5 separate regions of the Homo sapiens genome follow, and regions 1, 3, 4 and 5 are each reported to be linked to region 2. Evidence: microRNA targets listed by miRTarBase, many of them from high-throughput screens and not tested one by one. Region 2 holds a microRNA gene; each other region holds the end of a gene's coding sequence.

Region 1 (4,125 bases), not on the chromosome of region 2:
GGAGATTTACTGTCTTCGTTACAACTTTCAGAAATGTAACGGGTAGTAAGTGTTCAAACATTTATAGTTATTTTTCCTGTTCCCTGGAAGTTGTCTTACAAACCACTCTGAGAAATTCTGCTTTAGAAAACTGTAAAGAAAGTAGCTTGTTTTGGAATACCCCTTTCAGAAGTCCATATGTACAAAATATCCACAAATATACAATATATGAGGAACTAATTATATCTTCTATATGTATTGTCTTCTGAATAACGTTTTGCCTGCTTTTTTCCTTCTAGGTGTCTGTCATGTGTGCAATGAGTGAAGAATATGCTGTAGCCATAAAACCCTGCAAATAAACGGAAACATCAGGCATGAACACTGTTTATGTCTGAATCAACTGCAGATCTAATTTGGTTCTAAGTTGTCACCAAAGCTATAGCCTTCATAAGCAACCTCATTTCTTTTTTTAATTGTTTTCAGATTGTGCTGGGTTAGTTTTGCAAGCAATTGATAATTTTTAAAAAATTATCAATATGTATAATTTTTTTTGAATTTTGTAGATATGTTTCCTATAATATTCCTGTGGTTTTCAGTATGTCAGTCCAAGAAACAAACAAGATAGCTTCAGCAGATGTGATTTGTCTGAGCAAATCATTCCTGTGTTTTAGTTAGATGATAAACCAGGGTTTTAAATCAAACAATGTAGCATAAAGTGGTATTGAAGTACCATATTTAAGTTGAACTGCTCTGCATTAATTACAGATTTAATATAAAATGAACTGATTATATATTGGAATTGTTGCACTTTCAGCCTGTGTAGGGCAAACACAAATCCTTAAACAAAAATCATGTTATCAAAAACTGTCAGTTATTTTGGTGGCCACATGCAACCATGTGATTACTTTGGTCATACTATTTACCAAATTGTTGGCAAACTTGATGTAACCTTATATGGTGGTTTTAGTCCCTTCTTATGGTTGGCAGAAGGGCACTGAACTGTTGGGTGAAAGTTAGTTAGCAAGTAAGATTATAAGGAAGACACAAAAGACAGTGGCAAAGAGGGTTGATTAAATCTATAAGTTTTTATGTGAGGACTTTGTAAGTCAGCATAAAAATGAAAAGTTGTTTCTCAGTTGTTTTTGCTTTTAACTTTGCCCCCAACGTTTAAAGGGAGTGATCTGCTTTACATGATACTATGCAATGCTTGTTTTCCAACTATGTTGAATAAATAGTAATATTTATCAGTAAATACTCCTTTCCAACTTCCTTTTTTTTTTTTTTTTTTTTGAGACTGAGTCTCACTCCATCAGCCAGGCTGGAGTGCAGTGGTGCAATCTCGGCTCACTGCAACCTCTGCCTCCCGAGTTCAAGCAATTCTCCTGCCTCAGCCTCCCAAGTAGCTGGGACTACAGGTGCATGCCACCACGCCCAGCTACTTTTTTGTGTATTTTAGTAGAGATGGGGTTTCACCATGTTGTCTAGGCTGGTCTTGAACTCCTGACCTCAGGTGATCCACCTGCCTCAGCCTCCCAAAGTGCTGGGATTACAGGCATGAGCCACCACACCCAGCCCCTTTCCAACCATTTCTAAGTAGATTTTTTGACATTAATGTATTTATTAAACAAAAACTGAGAATTCCTTAAATTGATTTGGAATTTTTGTTAATTTTATGTCCTTTTTTTCCTAAAGTGAATTAAAGTGAATCATGGAAGCAGCATTACTTTATATGAATATTATTATTTAAGTTAAGTTATTTTAAGTATATGCATTTTTTCTGATTGTTGTGTGACTTAATTCAGTTGCTGGTGTGAACTATAACTAGCAAATAATTCTATAAACTGAATTATTTTAAAAGGTATTTTAGGTGACACCACTGCATTTCTATTTCATCTTTTGAGTCATATGTATATTATTTCCAGAATTTTAGACATTATTACAGGGTTTGTGAGGACCTTTGACTCAGTGACAATCATCATATTGGAGCAAAACATAGAACAAAATCACTATCTCAGAAATACCTTAATTCTCTAAGACTGGCTCTTAGACCTCTCCCATCATGCCTTGACCTCTAAAAAGCCCTTTGTTCCTATCTTCTAAAGGAAAGTATATCATATATGATGATGTAACTGATCTAATCAGTGACTGGAAATAGCATTAGTAACAGAAGATCCCAAGTTTTAGTTGCTTAATTTGTACACACTTTTAAATATTGTCTTAGCCTCGGCAAACCAATTTGGGGAAGAAGCAAGATACTTTAAGAGAAATACAAAGGAAATTTCTAAAGCACAAGAAATAGTGAGGTAGTAGTTAGTCGTCTTTCCTACAACATTTTAGCTTTTGCCCATCTAAAGCACAATTAAAATTAGGCTACATTCTTTCCAGTATTCTATTTAAGTACCTACTACATACTGCTCTAGTTTCTTAGTACTCTGTAATGTGTATCTTAATTGCTACTGGTTGGCATTGTAACTCATAGGAATTCCAGAAAATTATTAATCCGTGCTGCTTGCAGTTCATTCATATGGCCCCTCTTAACCATGCTGGTGTTATGATTCAGTATTAACTCTCAATTAGCATGCCCCTGTTCTTCCTAACTTGTAAAATTTCACATAAATATATTTTCAATTGTGTACAAATTAAGGGTGTACAAATTATAATAATGCATCTCTATCTTCATACTTTGAATGGCAAACGCTATTTATGCATAAATATTTTCATTTTAAGTAATATATGAAGTGTAAATACTCGATATATAAGTATAGATTTTAAAGATATGGGACTTTATTTTCACATAAGTCAATAGATGTTTCTCTAGAACAAAATATTTAGTAAAGCTTTATAAATTATATTAAAAGGAAGCGGGGAACATGTATTTTTTAACATAGAACAGAAGTGACTTCATTCTTTTTAGACATCAGAAATGTTAAAGTTGATTCCCAATATTTGTTGTACTTTTTTGTAGCAAATGTTAAAAATCACGAGTTACCATGTATAGAATGTGGACTGTCATGTTGATATCATTGTACAGTGATAAGCCATTTTTATCTGTATACATTTCACCAATTTATTAACAGGTTGAATATTTGTTTCTTTTTAGAACATTTTATTTATACTGTGAAGACTTTGTTATACCTTATTTGCTACAACATAGATCATATCATTGCTACTTTGACTTAGCATTTGCATCATAAACATAATTATGATGTTTTTTTCATGCTCCCTTCCAGGGGCTCAGTCACTTGAAGAAACTGTTGCTAACCAAGCTCTTGACTCTGTTTCCCTTAATGATACAAGTCTCTGTACCAGCGCTTTATGTTAATTACCAAAACTCTCCTGCATCAGAGCATGATATCTATAATAGGAGATACTGCAATAAAATGATTAGGCTGTAAAATTTGGAGACACAATTTTTCATTACAATGCAATTTGCATGTGCACATGTGCGCACATAACTTTATATGTTAGTTCTTTTTTCCAAACTCCCAACTCTTAAAAGTATTGTAGTCTGTTGGTGCCTCAACTGTTGGTAACTTTTTTTTTTTAAATTTACAACTTTCCACAACTTGTTTTTGTACTTTAAGGTTTCTCAATTAGAATATTTCTAGTTGAGCTGTAATTTGAATGCATTGTTCTCAGGGCTATTTGTGCTAAAAGCTGAAATTTCATTATTTTAAAGCTAATTGCCTGAAAATATATTGGCAGAATTTTCCCAAATTGTAATAACTGTGATACATGCATATAAAAAAATCCTTAATGTCAACACACTTAAACTACATGCTAAATAGTCAAGAAAAAAATGGAAACAGTAGCATCCATACTGGAATCTTGCCATATTTTTTTCATTTTAGAATAGATTTTGGCAGTCTCATCTTAGAATCCTATCCTTAGGATACATCTGAAAGCATTCCTTTGGCATGGACCCCAGAGATAGTTTTGGAGCCAGGCATTGATGTAGAGGTTCACCAAACATATTTAGGGATAATAGATAAATTCATAATGCTTTTTTGGGTACACTGAAATGTTTACATACTGAATTCTGTAATATGAACTAGGAACGCATTTACTATGAGAAAATATGGCTCTTAAGCAGTGTAAGAGTGAAAATATAAGCATATTTCCATTAACAGTATATTGTACTGATCA
Region 2 (4,125 bases):
AGATAATATCCTCAGAATACTTGAACAGAATGTATAGATAGTGTTAGAAACAGCTTACTCCTTGATACTTTGCTACTGTATTTCAGTTTATCTGGCCTGTGGACTATCTATCCACATTAATATAGCTTTGTTGCCAAAACAACTTTGTATCAGTTTCTTCCTTTTTCTTTTTTAAATGCCCATCACAGCAACCCACTAAGGTAGGCAAGGCAGAAACGTATATGTCTTTGCTTCCATTGAGAGCCCACCTCCCTGTGCAGTTGTGGACATGACAACTTAAGATTAATAAAAAGCTGTCTCATCTTCCACATCAGCATATGATGTTCCCATTTATGATCTTTTCTTAATGTTTTCTAGCAGAGGGAAGAAGAACTACATACTCCTGTCACTTCTCTATGGTAACTTTTCACTATTAAACTTTCTAGAGAGAAAGGAAAATCAAATATAAGATTAAGAGAAAAGAAAAAACTGAACGTCATTCATGTTGCTCTGAGAAGCCCTTGTTTTTTGATTAAGATAAAATCTGCTTATTTTTAATCCTGAGCAATTTGACTCCAGAAAATAAACTTAGAACAATATTTAAAAAGTTAAATCCTAATGATGAGACATTCTTATTTTACAAAAGTAGCTTTGTACTTAGGAGTCCATATGAGGCACAAGATTATATTCAATTGTTCTTTCTCAATTGTTTTGTAACTTTATATTTACCTGACTTTTAAAACGAAAAGCCACTTTTCTAACTCTGTAAATTACCACTCTCTTAATTGTGTCAAGTCTCAATTATTAAAGGACAAGTTATGAGCTGAAATCCATAATTCTTTGCTTCAACAAACATTTGATTTAGTTTGACAAAATTTTTTTGAGCACTTATTAAACATCAGATGCTAAACTGAGAATAGTATAGTTGAGGATATAGAGATGAATAAGCACAGTGCCAACACTTGGAAGTTTGCAGTCAATGAAGGAGAAAGCATGTGAGTGAGAAAACACCATTGTGTATTACAGGTGCCAAAAAAGGGAGACTGGGGAGAGAAGGCAGTGTGTGATAGTTTTCAATGTGTGACTGTCACACAAGGGGGTGTGTGTGTGTGTGTGTGTGTGTGTGTGTGTGAAAGAGAGAGAGAGGAGGGAGAGAGAAAGAAGAAATAATTCCAAGTATGGGCAAACACAGCTCATTGGATTCTCAGAACTTGTTAGAGCTGGAGTCTACAATGTAGAGGAAGAAATGGTCTAGTATGAAGTGAAGCTGGAGAAAGGCAGTGGAAAATCTCCACCGAAGTGCAAATCGCAGCCACCAAAACCAGACCTACTGAATCAAAATATAGAGGTAGGTCCTGGGGATCTACATTTGTAACAAGTTTCCTATGTGCTTCTTACACTCACTCAAGTTGAGATGCCATCCACGGCAGATGGTGGGGAAACTCTGAGGGCGTTTCCTCTTCCTTCCGTTCTTAATCATTATTCTTACCATTGATTAGCCCCACCCAGTGGACTGAGGGGCTTAGATCATGGCTCAGTCTCACTTAGCCATGACAGTGATGTGGGCAAGAGGGGAGGACATACCACCATCTATGAAAGGTAATAGCCACCGCTATTGACACATCTGGCCATTTGGTGAGTATACGGTCATTACTTTTTCAACGTAATTGCTGGTTTTCTTGTCTGAGGACAAATTTTAGAGTGTTTGGCTTTGATGTTTCCAAGTTCTCTATAAAGCTTGTTTAAAAAATCATTTTTAGTGATTGGTTTTACATTCACCTGTACTCCTACTTGGCTGTTTCTTACTATATATGGATTAGAGTAAATCCTTTCTAAATGCAAAGATTATACTTTTATGACATTACATGCAATATAGCATATGCCAGAAATCTGTGAATTCAGCAAGAGGAGTAGCTTGATAATGTCGCCTCAAGAAAAATGCAGAGGGGTACATCAGGGCTTCTGCTGGTGCACTCGATGTATGAAGATGTGCTTCCACCTGAGGCAGCCACGTGCCTCTGCTCATACACTTTCTCTTGCAGGTCTAACACGGATGGCTGTGAGTTGGCTTAATCTCAGCTGGCAACTGTGAGATGTTCATACAATCCCTCACAGTGGTCTCTGGGATTATGCTAAACAGAGCAATTTCCTAGCCCTCACGAATCAAAAGACTTGCATGGCAACCAAAATTAAACACCAAATTTCTATTTCATGACCAAGACGGGGGGAAAAGTTTCGATGGTTACTGTTTCATGCTCAACCTCTTTTAATCTTAGTAAAGTCTTTTTCTAAAGTGCTGTTGTGCTGGAAAGGAAACCAGCCTTGGGAATTAATTTGCCTTTATTGGATTCGCTTGCTACTTACTGCGCTCCTTCAGTGCTACTTGGTTTTTTAAAAAATTGCAGCCAAGGGAGTTTGGGTGTTAGAAGCTGAACCCAAAATATTTTCCCTCTGAAAGCTCCTCCCACTCTCTTTGTGGGTGCTACTCCATCAAATTCCAAACAGTCTAAAAGAGGACGATCTCCTGCCAGGCCCTCCTCAAACTTCAACTCCCCAGATTATCACATTTAATCGCCCTTCCTCATTCCTTCTGTAAGTGTTTCACATTCATCTGCCCTAAATAATATTGAAATTTAGAATCAACTATGGCTTAGGCTGAGGTTGCCATGAAACTTTTGAGCTGTACCCAACTCTAATTCTCGGTGATCCCTGGAAACAGATAATCCTTTTCCATAAAAAGAATAAGAACAAATGTAATTCTTCAGGGTGAAAAATCAAGGCCAGTTATCTTCCTCATTCACCCAGTAACACAAAACAAATCAGATGAACCAAATTTATAATTAAATGTGGGATAACTTTAACAACAAAAATTATTAAAATGCTATTTCCAAGGTCTTGACTGGCACATATCCCCTCAGGTATCCTCAGAAAGAGAAGTCTGTATATCTCAGTTTGATTAAATTACATTTCTGGGCCGGGCGCAGTGGCTTACGCCTGTAATCCCAGCACTTTGGGAGGCTGAGGCAGGCGGATCATGAGGTCAGGGGATCGAGACCATCGTGGCTAACACGGTGAAACCCTGTCTCTACTAAAAATACAAAAAATTAGCTGGGCATGGTGGCGGGCACCTGTAGTCCCAGCTACTCAGGAGGCTAAGGCAGGAGAATGGAGTGAACTCAGGAGGCGGAGGTTGCAGTGAGCCAAGATTGCGCCACTGCACTCCAACCTGGGCGACAGAGCGAGACTCTGTCTCAAAAAAAAAAAAAAAAAAAATTACATTTCTGTATCAAGGCACATTAGTATGACCTATTAGATTTCCTTGCCAGAAATTGATGTTGAGCAGTAGGAGGTAAGTTTGAGAACTAGTTATTCACATACTAATAGCACAAATACTGAACCATAAGCCAGGAAATAACTTACCTCTGGTAAGGAGAGGGCTTCGTATTAATTTTCAGGACTCATTAAGGGCTCTTTTAAGCTGCTGCTGAAACTTTCTAAATGTTGTCTGTATCCTCCTGCTAGTTGAAATAATCATTTTTTCAAACATGAAAAAATTCCCAATTCCAATTTTTGGTGACCATTTTTCAAAAAGGGAAGAAGATAAATGTAATTAAACAGAGCAGGAAATATTTTTTGAAGAGCTGAGTACATATGATGCATCAGGAACCATGCTTGTTGCCTTGCTTGTGTGTACACTCAGTGCACTCTTGCAGTCTCCAGATGTTCCCAGTGCTCTCTGCACATAGAGGCACAGGGAGCTTTTGAAAATGTCAATATCAAGGGCTGTGCCACTGATAAATCAGAATGCCTGGGATGGGATCTGGGCATCTCTGTTTAAGAGGCACCCAGGGGATTGTAATGTGCAGCCAAAGGTGAGAATCACTGTATTTGAGCTCAACAGGGAAGCTGTGGTTGGAGTGCAGTGAGAAAAACTGGAAGGAGAGGATTAGAGGGTATAGCTAGGTAGACTATGGTAAGAATTTGGGGTTTTAGTGTGAGGGACTCCACAAGCAATTGGAGAGTTTTAATTAAAGAAGTGGCATGACTTATTTACCAGTAACACAGTTTAATAGACTTTTCTTAGAATCTAACCATGTATAAACTTTAAAGAAAAATAGTTATTGTGGACTGCAAATAACTTCCTTG
Region 3 (4,125 bases), not on the chromosome of region 2:
CTGGACTGCAAGCACACCTGCTGTTCAGTGTGCCTGCAGCAGATGAGGACCAGCCAGAAGGATGTGCGGTGCCCCTGGTGCCGCGGTGTCACCAAGCTGCCTCCCGGCTTCTCCGTGTCGCAGCTCCCGGACGACCCGGAGGTCCTGGCTGTCATCGCCATTCCACACACTTCCGAACACACCCCGGTCTTCATCAAACTTCCCAGCAATGGGTGCTACATGCTGCCCCTGCCCATCTCCAAGGAGCGTGCGCTGCTGCCCGGAGACATGGGCTGCCGCCTGCTGCCCGGGAGCCAGCAGAAGTCCGTCACCGTGGTGACCATCCCTGCTGAACAGCAGCCTCTGCAAGGTGGGGCTCCCCAGGAGGCGGTGGAGGAGGAGCAGGACAGGCGGGGCGTGGTGAAAAGCTCCACCTGGTCGGGGGTGTGCACTGTCATCTTGGTGGCTTGCGTCTTGGTCTTCCTCCTCGGCATCGTGCTTCACAACATGTCTTGCATTTCTAAGCGCTTCACTGTGATATCCTGTGGCTGAAGAGGGCTGCAGGGAAGTCTCTTGTGGGTGCCAACTTAGGGGTTGAGCAGGTTGATGATGAGATCCCAGTGAGAAGATGGGGGGCAACACTGACCATTTGGTGCTGAGCGCTGGCCTCTGGGTTGCCTCTTGATTACCCCAAGACAGACACAAAGGGCAGAAGGTGCGGTCTCAACAAGATACCAGGTGAATTGTTCTGAGTGTTGATGGCAACAGCTTGGAAGATGATTGCATGCATCCTCATAATCATGTATTCAATGGACTGTAATTTATGATTTTTCAAAATCATGTTACAAGATAGACATATTCTACTTAGACGTTAAACTGTACAAGTGCGTACAATGTGACCTTCTCTAAATGCGGTAGATTCAAACAAAGATGCTCTGTAGACAAGTAGAATTAAACCTGCGAATCCGTGTAAAAATTCAGTGAAGACATGCACTGCTGGCTTCTTTATTTTTTTTTTCTTTTTATTGAAACCCAGTCTTCATTTAGTTGCTAAGGCTTTTAATACATTTTGAATGGCACCAAAACAAAATAAGTCAAAATGGACAGTCATTTTATTTGGAGGAAATATTTGAACAAGTGTCTCCAATGTGTTGTGTTTTGTCATGAACCTTCATTTTCTTCACTTGTAATTAGAGCTTGCTACGTGTTTATGGAACTGAAAGCTCAACAGGGGAGCAATAAACCGAGAAATCATGAGAAATGTCTAATCCCATGGGAAAACCTGTATGCCGATTTTCCTCAAGCCATCTCACAAAATAAGAATTTCAAATGTAAATATTGTGTATTTGTGTGTGTATGTGTGTGTGTCTAATTTGATTTACCTCAGGTGTTTGAGTCTTTGCTGAAGAATCCTGGGATGAAGACTTCATTGGGCATGAATGAGTCAAGTCTCTGAAGCGGTGGCCACTTCTTGGACATCTTGACCCAGCGAGTGGTCTCCTACACGTCACCTGCAACACTCGCTCCTCTTCTGTGTATTTAAGTCCTGCATTTTGTAAGAGGCAAATGGAGAGTAACAGAAGAGTGTCTTTTCTCCTGGTTTTGGAGTCTTGCACTGGCCATGAGTGTTGTGACTGATGGTCAACCCAGGCGGGCATTTTAATAAATGGCCTGTGATTCTTTTTTGAAAGATGCTCTTCCACAAGAGTTAAGCCAGTTAGAATTCCTGTTTCCTCTTGTTGATATGAGAGAAGATCTCCTGTATTTTAACACGTTTTTACCAAGAAAGGTGGCAAGGTAAACTAACAGCTCAAATTCCCAATATAAGTGGACCAGTTCCTCATAAACTGTCAAATGTTCTTAAATGTGTAATGATCTATAGATGCTCATGAAGAAAGATCTGCTACAAGTACGTGATAAATTCCTATCCCTGGGTGCATGTGCATTCAGAAATAGCTGTGAGCTTTACAGCTCTCATCTAACTTCTTTTATGGAATTCATGAAGCAAGTGGTATGTGACAAGGACTCCACTTATAAATATAACTGTTTTTATGTTCCACTGAATCCCTGAAAATGGTGAGGAGGGTGGGGGGAAGTGAAGGAAAGACAAGCAGGGCTAATTCCAAAAAGCAAGGCTAGAAAATAGCCCTGTGAGGTCAAGACAATTTAATTTATTTACATGCTGTCTGTTATCTTCAAGCAGCACAAAATATGCATATAAAAGTGATGGAATTAATGTGAAATAAAACAAAAATATAATGGCTAGAATACAAAGCTAATACTGCTAATTGGCATGAGAATTCAACATAAAATTGTGAGCTCTGATTTTTCAAATTGATCATAAAACCTTTAGGAAATGTATTTGAAAGCTCAAAATAGAAATTAGGTTAAAATGCCATTTTATTGTGTAAGCTCTTGGGCATTATACAACAAATAATCTAGGATTTATTTGGTATTAATAATTTAGGTGTCATATTAGCTGAATACTATCCTCTATTACATAACATAATATACTGTTGGGTTAGTGTCAATTTCTCAAACTCTCCCAGGCTGCCATAATGCATGTCTGACCTAATTTCTATTTCTCTTGGAGGAAAATACACACACACACACACCACAGAAGTGTTGCATTAAGAATGCTACATTTCGAATAGACTTTGCCCTTGCAATTTTAAGCTATGCCATATTCAGATTAATTTTGTGAGTGATATCTGCATATGTTTCTGTACAGTGTGAAATGACTGACCCTGTAGTATAGTACGTGATAGAGTTCTACTTGTTAAAGTAGGTTAGATATAGACACTAATGTGTGTGATGATAGTGTCCTGTGTTTCTTAGTGCAAATCTGTAGAGTAAAAATGTCCATAGAACTTTTACTTAAAAACAATCCCATGCTAGAGTTGCCATTAAGCAGTGCAAAATTAATCGGCTGTATGGTAGATTCTTGACCTTAAATTTAACAACAACAACCAAAATCAGATTTTTTTTGTGAGTCTTACTGACCTAAGAAACATTGTTTAAATTGTTTAAATGGATCTGCTTGCAGTTATTTGTGTACCTGTTTGTTGGGGTGTGCATTCTTGTGTATGTGTGTGTGTGTGTGTGTGTGTGTGTGTGTGTGTGTGAGAGAGAGAGAGAGAGAGAGAATCTCAGTCTCCCAGATAGAATTTTATAGGCTTAATGATGTTTTAATGTTGCTTGGCATCCCATTGCTCTGGCCTCTTCTGGCATTTACCAATGACCCTTAACAAACACATCTACCCATGTGACCAAAGTCCACTGACACAAGAGGCCAGGATTCATACTTGCACATTAATGAAAAGTCACAACTGGAAAGCACAGAAAGAGCTGAAAGCAGCCTCCGGTGGCTTCATTTTGTAGATGAGTCCGTTTTGTAATTCTGCAGAAAGGGGGGGATATGAACTTCGCACTGCAGTGTCTTCTTGCTCCATCCTAGGTCTGTCTATATCTCTATCTGGCTATGATCCTTTCTAGGGTTGATGAATACCCTTTACTGAGTCAACTATTGCTTTAAAGAATTTTTTTTGTAGGTTTATGTACTCATTTTAGTTAGCATCTACCTCTCTGGGAAAATGAAAGGAGGGTTGACTTAGGGATGAGTATAGATGTTGAAAGACAACTATCAAACCATGTGGTTTGAATTTTTAAAATTGTAAAACATTGGTGTCCAAACCTCCCACCCCACTTGTATGTAAAGGACAGTGAGTGTTGTATAAATAGTAAACTATAAGAAGCATGAATTTTCATCTTTATTAATGATCTTGAAATAAGGAAGAGAATGCTTAATATGTTAAGTAGAGCCAAGAATGCTACTAAGAAGCATTGTCTTTGGAAAAATTTTGTATAATGACTTGGGGCATAAGTTGTGATGAAAAGGCAACTTGGTTTTTGGTTCCAGTCATACTTAATGATCAGAAAGCTCTAAGATGTTTTCTTTAAAAATAGAATTAAGTTTAATTTTTTGCATGGCTTACAGATTGGGTCCCTTGAAGGTTAAACCATGTGATGGTATAACCTGTGAGATCTTCTAGATTGGCACTGTTCAATAGGGCTTTCTGTGATGATGGAAATGCTCGAAAACCTGTGCCGTCTGGTACGGTAGCCACCAGGCACATTGACTTTTAG
Region 4 (4,125 bases), not on the chromosome of region 2:
GTGTATCAGTCACCTGGGGAGGTTTTAGAAATACATTCCAAGACCTCACTGCAGAGCTACTGAAGCAGAATCTCTAGTACATGAGGCCAAGGATTTTTATTTTTACTAATTAATTATTTTATTTTTATTTTTAAATTCTTCAGATGGTTCTCATATGCAGGGATTTCTTTAAAAGAATACTGAACCCAGGCCATGCTATTCTATTGTCAAGATTCTTGGGCATTGAATGAGTAATTAGAAGATTATGAGAGGTGAAGCCAGCTGGACTTTCTGGGTCGGGTGGGGACTTGGAGAACTTTTCGGTCTTACAAGAGTATTGTAAAATGCACCAATCGGTGCTCTGTGAAAACGCACCATCTGTGCTCTGCAGCTAGCTAGAGGTTTGTAAAATGGACCAATCAGCACTCTGTAAAATGGACCAATCAGCAGGACATGGGCAGGGACAAATAAGGGAATAAAAGCTGGCCACCCCCAAGCCAGCAGCCACAACCCCCTCAGGTCACTCTCCACGCTGTGGGAGCTTTATTCTTTCGCTCTTCACAATAAATCTTGCTGCTGCTCACTCCTTGGGTCCATGCCATCTTTAAGAGCTGTAACACAGTGAAGGTCCGTGGCCTCATTCTTGAAGGCAGTGAGACCACCAACCCACCAGAAGGAACCAACTCTGGACACAATTATCTAGTGAGTATGGAAGTGGAGAAAAGGGATTTAGATGTATGAGGCCGTGCAATGCAGGCTGTGGACAATCCCATTGACTAGTCCTCTGTAATGATGAGAATCTTCATTTCTAGTAGATATGGTAATCTAACCCCCTTTGTACACTGCTGGATAACATGGAACATGTTTTTTCCTCTCTGGTTTCTCTTTATCTGGGCTCCATAAAGACCAGTCCTTCCATTAACATTCTTTCTTCAGATAATCGGGTTACATGATGGGAAATTAGATTTTTTTTTTTTTCATTTCTGTTTTGAGTCTATAGTTCCCCATCCCATCAGCTTGCATGGTTCTCTAGTCTCTTCAGCACCACATTTACTAATTGTCTCTTAGGCTAGACACTTTGGAGATGGCTAAGTTCATTTGTGCTACATTTTTGCCCTTGGCCACCTCAATCTAATCTCCTGATATACTTGCTACATCTCAAATAGAGTTTTTGCTCAAGTAATCATCTGTTAACCCTTCAACTGTATTACACAGTACCTCTTCAGTTCAGATGAGATGTGTAAAATCATGGAATGTTGAGCTGGAAGAGAGTTTATAGACCATCTTGTCTAAGCTCAAAAAAGATAATAATTATAGGCAGTTAGTTGGGTACAGTTTTTTGTTAATTTGTTTTTGATGAGTACATCATGCTACCCCTGTACAATTCTTGCTTTGGGGTTTATAATCTATTACTGCAAACCCTAGCTATGAAGTAGCTGGACTTCATTCAGTAGGGTGAAGTCCATTCATGTGTCATACTGATAGGCACTGAATAACCACGGTCCAGCCAAATCTCTGTGAGACTTATCTTCCTCTTCTGTAAAATGAGGAGAATGAATATCTACTTTATAAACTGTAAGATGCTTTTTGTTTTGGTTTGGGAAGAACCTTGGACAGGAAGGAAAACAAAAATGTATCAGTCAATCTGAGAATTAGTTATTACACGGGCTCCAAGCCCAGAAGATACTAGCTAAACCTAAAAGGAATGATCTTGGAAATAAGGATTTCTAGTATATTAAATTATGAGTGCTATTCACTAGTCAAGCAATCATTGATTTTCTTAAAGCCCTAAGCAATACTATAAAACAGAAGATTGTATCTACTTTCAAGAGATTACAATGAAGTTACTCATTTAGTTGCACGTTAGGGCATTTGTGTTATTATTTATGGTAACTTCGAAAATGGGAGGTATTAAAGGACCTATGAAAATACTGTAAATCAGTTTTAAAAGTGTATAAACTGGCATATTTTTCAATTTGTTTGCAAGGCTGGCTTAATGATTGGCATGATAACAGTGGTTACTCTCATAAGGCATTAAATATATAGCTCTAAATGATTTTTACAAGTAAAAATAAAATTTTGTAGTCATTTAGTTTAGTTCAACAAATATTTATTGAGGATATAATGAGTAATCAAAGGTTGTCCCAGTACTCAAGGCGATGATTGTCAGGTAGCAGAAACAATTACAAGTCGATGGAAAATGCTGGGATCGAAGTGCACACAAAGAGCTATGGAAGCCCTGTAGGGACTGGGGAGTGAGGAGGGATGTCAAGAAGGCTGCTATCCAGAAGAAGCAATGTTTCGACTGAGGCTTGAAAGTTTCAATGTAATGTGGGAGGAAGAGCAAATGGAACAGTGTGTGAAAAGACATGGAGGCATGAGAACACATGGTGTTTTTAGAGACCAAGGTGGACCTCAGGATGAGCGTAAGGCAGTAAGAAATGAGATGGGAAGGAGTCAAATCATGACTGGCTTGCTTGTTTGATCATTTTCCTATGAGTGACCGTGTTGACGGATTCAAATTTAAGGAGTACAAGATCGTATTTTAAAAATGCCCTTAGCAGTATTTATAATTGAACAAGGATAGACAACAGCTGGGTAAGAAAGACTAGAGGCAGAATTCTCAGCCAGGGATCATGGAATGTGAATATCCTTTTGCTGACACAAGGAACAAATGTTGGCTCCAAACATTAGTTACTTTATACCAGTATTAGCTGTTCATTCAGTTTTTTAACTTCTTTAGAGCAATTTTATTTATCATCTATTTTTTCCCAATTACCCATTACATATAGAAATATTATCATGCCTGTCACCGATGAAACATATTAAGAAAAGTGAAAAATACATATTCTTTAAAGTGCCTCCCTTTTAAGGATTTTGTATCAACAAAGCACTGATTGTGGAATTCATGTATAGTCTTCAGAAGTCACAGTATATAAGCTCCGACTATCAATAGCAGCTTAACAGGCTCTATAAAATAAAGCATTACCAAGTATAGGTAAAATCATACATATTTGAAACTTATATCATTATTTTCCTACCAATGAGTGATTCATCATAATTTTCATTATGCCTTCAAAATTATCCCTGAGAGAGGCCAGAAACCCATTCTGCTGATGAAGAAACTGAGGTAAAGATTTCTCTTTGGTCTCAGTGTAAGAGCCTGGAATATGTCAGAGAGATTATTGCTTTTGACCTTATCAAGTTTCTTGATCCCTCCTTACACCCTTAAGTTTTAATGTTTCTCTTCTAAGTCTAAAAGTGAGGCGTATTTGAAATTTGTTCTGTGTATTGCAAGTATATTGCATGATACGCACAAAGTGCTCAAAGTGCGTGGTACCACAAGAAGCTAAAGCCAGGAGCTGTCTCTCTGACTGTTCAGTTTAGAAGAAAAGATAGGTAAAATTGGTTCTCAGTGAAGCACTGATTGTGGAATTCATTTATAGTCTTCAGAAGTCATGGTATATGATATGTGCATTCATAGATTTTTTTTGTTTGTTTAAATCACAGTCACCTGTCTGAAGCATCTTCACTGGATTCTTCTTGTATAAGAAGTTCATAGCTTCCCTCATTCCAGCTGGTACACTTGACAACACTATAAAAGGAAACAAGACATTTTAAAGTTGAGATTAAGACAATACATAAATAAGTAATCTGTTTTCCAACTTTTTTTCCCAGTTACATAGCTTTTAATAAATTATGCAGATTATTAGGAGGAGTATCCTGGCATTTTGAATCCAGCTGACTCATGCATGGTGTTCTTAAAATAATTTTAAAACTGCATGATTTTTTTTCTCTTCTAGACCCCTAAGGTATCCCATCTGTCCCATGGTTAACTCTGTGTAGTCCACATAAACTAGTTATAACTAAAGCTATTACTGAAGTTCCTGTTCAATAGCTATAGCTGAAGCTCAGAAGCTTGGACATTTGGAGGTAAGACAGTATGTAATTTTGATTTTTAAAATATTGAGCAGTGTAAGGTTAAAAAAAAAGCTCAGAAGCCCATCTACTTTACCTTATTATTAAAAGGACAACTGCCTTTTATCTATCTGTTATAACAGAATTTATAAACATGTGAAGACTAAAATTAGAATTACCTATTATTCTACTCACCATGTATGCAATTCTTTTCTTTAAGTGTTATTT
Region 5 (4,125 bases), not on the chromosome of region 2:
CTGTATGATACTCCTCCAGCCATAAACTTTTTCTGGGCAGCCTTCACATCCTAGATCGGGGCTACCTTAGGAATTCAAAACTTGGTGAGAATTCAGGCAAGAATTTCTACAAAGGGATGAGATTGTGGATGAATGTGGAATTTTAAGAAAAGAAGGGTTAGGAAGGGTGTTTTTTTTTTAATAGTTAGATGACTTTATTTAGAATATACATTGCAATGATTCCCTCCCACAGAAATCACTTCAAACCGTAATTCTCAAATACTGTGCAACATTCAACCAGCTAAGGATTTCACGTGACTTTCAGGAAATAAATGACCCACAATTACCCAGTGAATTCCATGTAGTGTTAAGAATAATTGCAGGTAACTTCTTCATGTAATTACCATGAAATTGAGTATAATTTAGAGAATAAAATCAGGAACATACTCCTAATTGCTTTTTTGATCCATTAAGCATCATTCTCAATCTCTCACTAAATGCTTGGGTGCCTCAAACTAGTTTTTGTTTATAGGCTAGATTTTAAAACACTGTTTTATTATAACTCTGTTAATGTATCTCTACATAGCACTTTTAAGGCAGATGTGAAGAGATCAACTGGAATAAGCTGCCAACCATTTATATACAATATAAATATTTTGCCCAAGAATGCAGTTTTACAAGCTTAAATCACTGAGCTCTAAACCCATCAAACTTTTCTATGATAAACCAGTGACTTTTTAATGTATTCTATCAGTTTTTACTTATTAGACATGGACAGGTCTGTTTTCATATAAATGAAAATCAGGTCTAAAAGATGGCCTTGATAAGAGTTAATACTGTCTGTCAGCTTCAGCACAGAGGTAGGCATTTAAGTCTGAATTCCTTTGCTTGAATAAGAGTGATACATTCTTCAATCAATCAAACTGGCCACATGAGGTCTCTGCCATTACCAAAATAAAATGCAAATGCACTTAAGAGGTGTCTTGAAAATCAGATTATTTCTCATGAAGTACAAGCACTGAAAATAATGTTGGATATCTACTTTAATTTCTGGTTGAAAACAATGTATTATACTAGGAAAAAGGATAAATGAGGTTGAAGCTGGAGATAATACAAATGAGAAAACTGTATCCCACTTAATTTATGTGTCTAAAGTGTTAGCCAGGTGTTTCAATTAGGGATTCACCTAGGCTAGAATAATTGTTAGGTAGTAAAGCATATACACTTGGCTATATAAACAATGTACCTAAATACCAAATTCGATTATTTAAATTATAATCTATGCTGGAATTCTTGGAAATACATGTAGCTCCTCACTAAATTGTGACATGTTGTGAGCAACATGTCAATCTTGGTCATGGATATATGAAGCACTACATTCTCTGCAATCATTTCCAGCAGTGCTCCGATTAAAGCCCCACAGTACAGAGTCTGACTTTTCAATTATCTCCTCAGTACATCTATCTCACTTTGGCAAGAGCAAATGGCTCGCTATGATTCAACCCCATTTAAACATGGCGGTGAGCAAAAAATTTCAGAAATGAAGGGGGAAAAATTCTACCTAAATAAAGTGAGGGAAGATGAAATTAAAACAAACATGTTTTCCAAAAAGACTAGTAGGGAAACATTTAGGGAAAAACAAAAATAAAATTACTGAGGTCAAGAACTTAGTTTCCTCCAAATAACATTTAAGGAACTGATGAAAAAAATTACAAAGCACTGTAAAAATAAATGGTGGAGGGCAGCAGAATTTCACTTGCTTAATCTTTTTAAAGTGCCAGAATTCACACTAAGCAAAACTAGAGCTTTTAAATTTAGGAAGTCTTATTTAGCAAGCTCAAGTTCTTCCTTGTCAATCTTCTGATTTGCACCTGTCTCCACAAAAGATTTAACAGGCTATATTAGTGATATTAACATTTTATGTTCTTGTGTCACTCAGGGGAATCGTTTTATGAAACTGTTGAAGTATGTAAGCAAACTGTATTTACTTGACTGGATAGCCACTTGGTTATTCTGCAGCTACACAAGTTGGTACTTGCTGAATTATATAGCATACCTTTCACAAGTAAAGGTACAGATCAAATTGCTTAAGAAATCACTGTTGACTGCTTTGGGATGCTAGGAAAGCCAAGGAGCCCATGATTCAAGCCTAGAACTAGCAAAAATATATTTCTATCCATCCCCAAAATAAGTAAAACCATGTACTAAAGACAGAATAAAGTGGGACCTCAATGTTTCATTCCTATACATGGTACTTTTTGAAAGTGCAGGTTAATTTCTTCTTTGGTGAGGCCTAATCTTGCTACTCAGGGACATACTTGATTCCATAAAGCTATTCACTCTTAAGAGCCACTGGATCGACCGACACTTCTTAATATGAATCTGCTTTAGCATGGTGGCAGTCAGCTTCATACAACATGCTTTTTGAGCAAATGTAAGCACTAGCCAGATGTAGGTTTCCCACATTGCATTCCACAGCACATCATCAGAAGACATGTACCTCTATCTCTCACACAAAAAATTTGACCCATGGAAAAGTCCATCTGCCATACCTTGTTTTTTAATGAAAAAATATCTGAACCATTCACAAAGTCTGGTCTATGTGCTTAATGAAATGCCTGTCAGTTGTATACCACTGGACAACCACAAACCATTTCTCTTCAAAATAACAATATCCACAAGCAGATATAGAGAGACAATGTGTATAAAAATAAATGAAAGCAAAGCTCTGGAAACTCAGCCTCCTCTCTCAAATGAAAATACTACAGAGATAGCACAAGATAAACGGGAGCCCTGGTTCTGCAGAGCTCTTCTGGACGAAAGAGTCATTTTCTCCTAAAATTGCTATTAAGATATTATTCACTACTAGATCCCTCCTGCTGGTCACTTTTAGAATGGCTCTTAAAAAGGTTCTGAACTATTGTCTCCTCAGTTTAAGGTTTCTGTGACTCAAAGTCAGATGCTATTGTAATATCTACTATAAAATATATCATTATAGAAATATTATATACCAATCTCAGATAGGTGCTTGGGTCAATCTCAGGTTTCATTTTTAGTTCTATGGCCAAGAGTGCAAACTTGAGACCTCAGTTCTGCCTACTGTTTAATGTAACACAAGACAAGTCAATACAGACACAGATATCACCTTAACATACATCAACTGTCCTAGAGAACTATACACTTGTTAAGAATGAAGTAAAGAGGTGAACAAGTGACACCATTTACACGCAGTTGTGTGATGGGAGGCAAAGTGAAATAGGAAGGGAAAAGGCAGGCCAAATGACCAACAGCAACAACATTCAAAATACTTGTAGTGCTGAATCTGTTAATAGTGCTTATTTCCCCCAATTAAAAAAAAAAGAAATAAAAATCTGAAAAGGGTAAACTGCCTAATTTTTCTTTTATACTCATTAATTCTTAAAAGATAAAGTAAGAAAAAATATATATATATATATATTTAACTGGAAAGTATACCAATTTCACTTTATTAGCCTAATTTAGGAATAGGATGAGGAGAGCGGGGTTGAGGTCAGGCATGAAGGAAGAGGGTAAAAACTTGTGATGGTTAAGATCCCTTCAGAACTCTGGTGCAGTCCTCAATCACTGCAGCTTTACTGTCAGTCAGTGGAGCTGCAATCCAAAAGACGGAAAATCGACTCCTGTTTTCCATTTCTGTGTCCAGTGACTCTTCAGTTACAGTGTGATGAGGTCTACCAGGTTGCCTTTAGGAGGAGTCATGCTGTCAGGAAAGAAATTTACTAAGGTGTCAAAGAGCTGAGTTCTTTGAGCATAGGTGTGATCCACATCAGAAAAGCCTGGTGAAGAAGATACAAAGAAACATCCATTGTGTTTAAAACATGTAACAGAAAAACTAGTTGAGACCAGCAGCAATGTATTTTATAATGGAGAAATCAAATCAGGCTTCAAAACCAGGCAGACACTACTGATCTGACCCCAGTTCTACTACCTGGCTGTGGTGTGATCTTAGATAAATTAGTCAGACTTTCTGGCTTTCAGACTTTGCTTCCTCAGCTGTAAGTATGTGATAATCCTGTTTACTTCATACAGTTATTGTGCAGATTAAATGTAGTTACATGAAAAGCGTCTAGCAGAAGGACTGGCACTTTAGTTACAAATAATACTGAT

The links. Region 2 holds the annotated microRNA hsa-miR-216a-3p (UCACAGUGGUCUCUGGGAUUAU, at 2,089-2,110, shown strand). A microRNA usually pairs through its seed, bases 2 to 8, with sites in the 3' UTR of a target mRNA and lowers its output. Matches are read on the target gene's strand: a 7mer-m8 pairs with bases 2 to 8, a 7mer-A1 pairs with bases 2 to 7 and ends in A, and an 8mer does both.
Region 1: the mRNA of EIF5A2 is a reported target of hsa-miR-216a-3p. Seed matches in the 3' UTR shown: 7mer-A1 at 3,094-3,100 and 7mer-A1 at 3,705-3,711.
Region 3: miRTarBase lists RNF152 as a target of hsa-miR-216a-3p. The part of its 3' UTR that is shown has no 7-base or 8-base seed match.
Region 4: the mRNA of SLC46A3 is a reported target of hsa-miR-216a-3p. Seed matches in the 3' UTR shown: 7mer-A1 at 2,906-2,912.
Region 5: miRTarBase lists MKLN1 as a target of hsa-miR-216a-3p. The part of its 3' UTR that is shown has no 7-base or 8-base seed match.

Annotation. Positions count from the first base shown.
Region 1 is chr3:170,889,573-170,893,697 of GRCh38, reverse strand. EIF5A2 (eukaryotic translation initiation factor 5A2) reads left to right here. Exons shown (of 5, transcript NM_020390.6): 5 at 279-4,125. The coding sequence ends at 338. Among named protein-coding and RNA genes, the nearest start is that of EIF5A2, 17 kb to the left of the region's middle.
Region 2 is chr2:55,986,966-55,991,090 of GRCh38, reverse strand. It overlaps MIR216A (microRNA 216a), which reads left to right and starts at 2,032; the gene lies at 2,032-2,141. The region is part of intron 2 of MIR217HG (MIR217 host gene); the gene reads left to right. All of the region lies in intron 3 of LOC105374690 (a long non-coding RNA gene), which reads right to left.
Region 3 is chr18:61,812,258-61,816,382 of GRCh38, reverse strand. RNF152 (ring finger protein 152) reads left to right here. Exons shown (of 2, transcript NM_173557.3): 2 at 1-4,125. The coding sequence ends at 531. Among named protein-coding and RNA genes, the nearest start is that of LINC01544, 66 kb to the right of the region's middle. RefSeq lists an enhancer at 1-156.
Region 4 is chr13:28,698,008-28,702,132 of GRCh38, forward strand. SLC46A3 (solute carrier family 46 member 3) reads right to left here. Exons shown (of 6, transcript NM_181785.4): 6 at 2,073-3,574. The coding sequence ends at 3,490. All of the region lies in intron 1 of LOC124903143 (a long non-coding RNA gene), which reads left to right. Among named protein-coding and RNA genes, the nearest start is that of SLC46A3, 19 kb to the right of the region's middle.
Region 5 is chr7:131,487,276-131,491,400 of GRCh38, reverse strand. It overlaps MKLN1 (muskelin 1), which reads right to left. Exons shown (of 18, transcript NM_013255.5): 18 at 1-3,794. The coding sequence ends at 3,673. Among named protein-coding and RNA genes, the nearest start is that of PODXL, 67 kb to the left of the region's middle.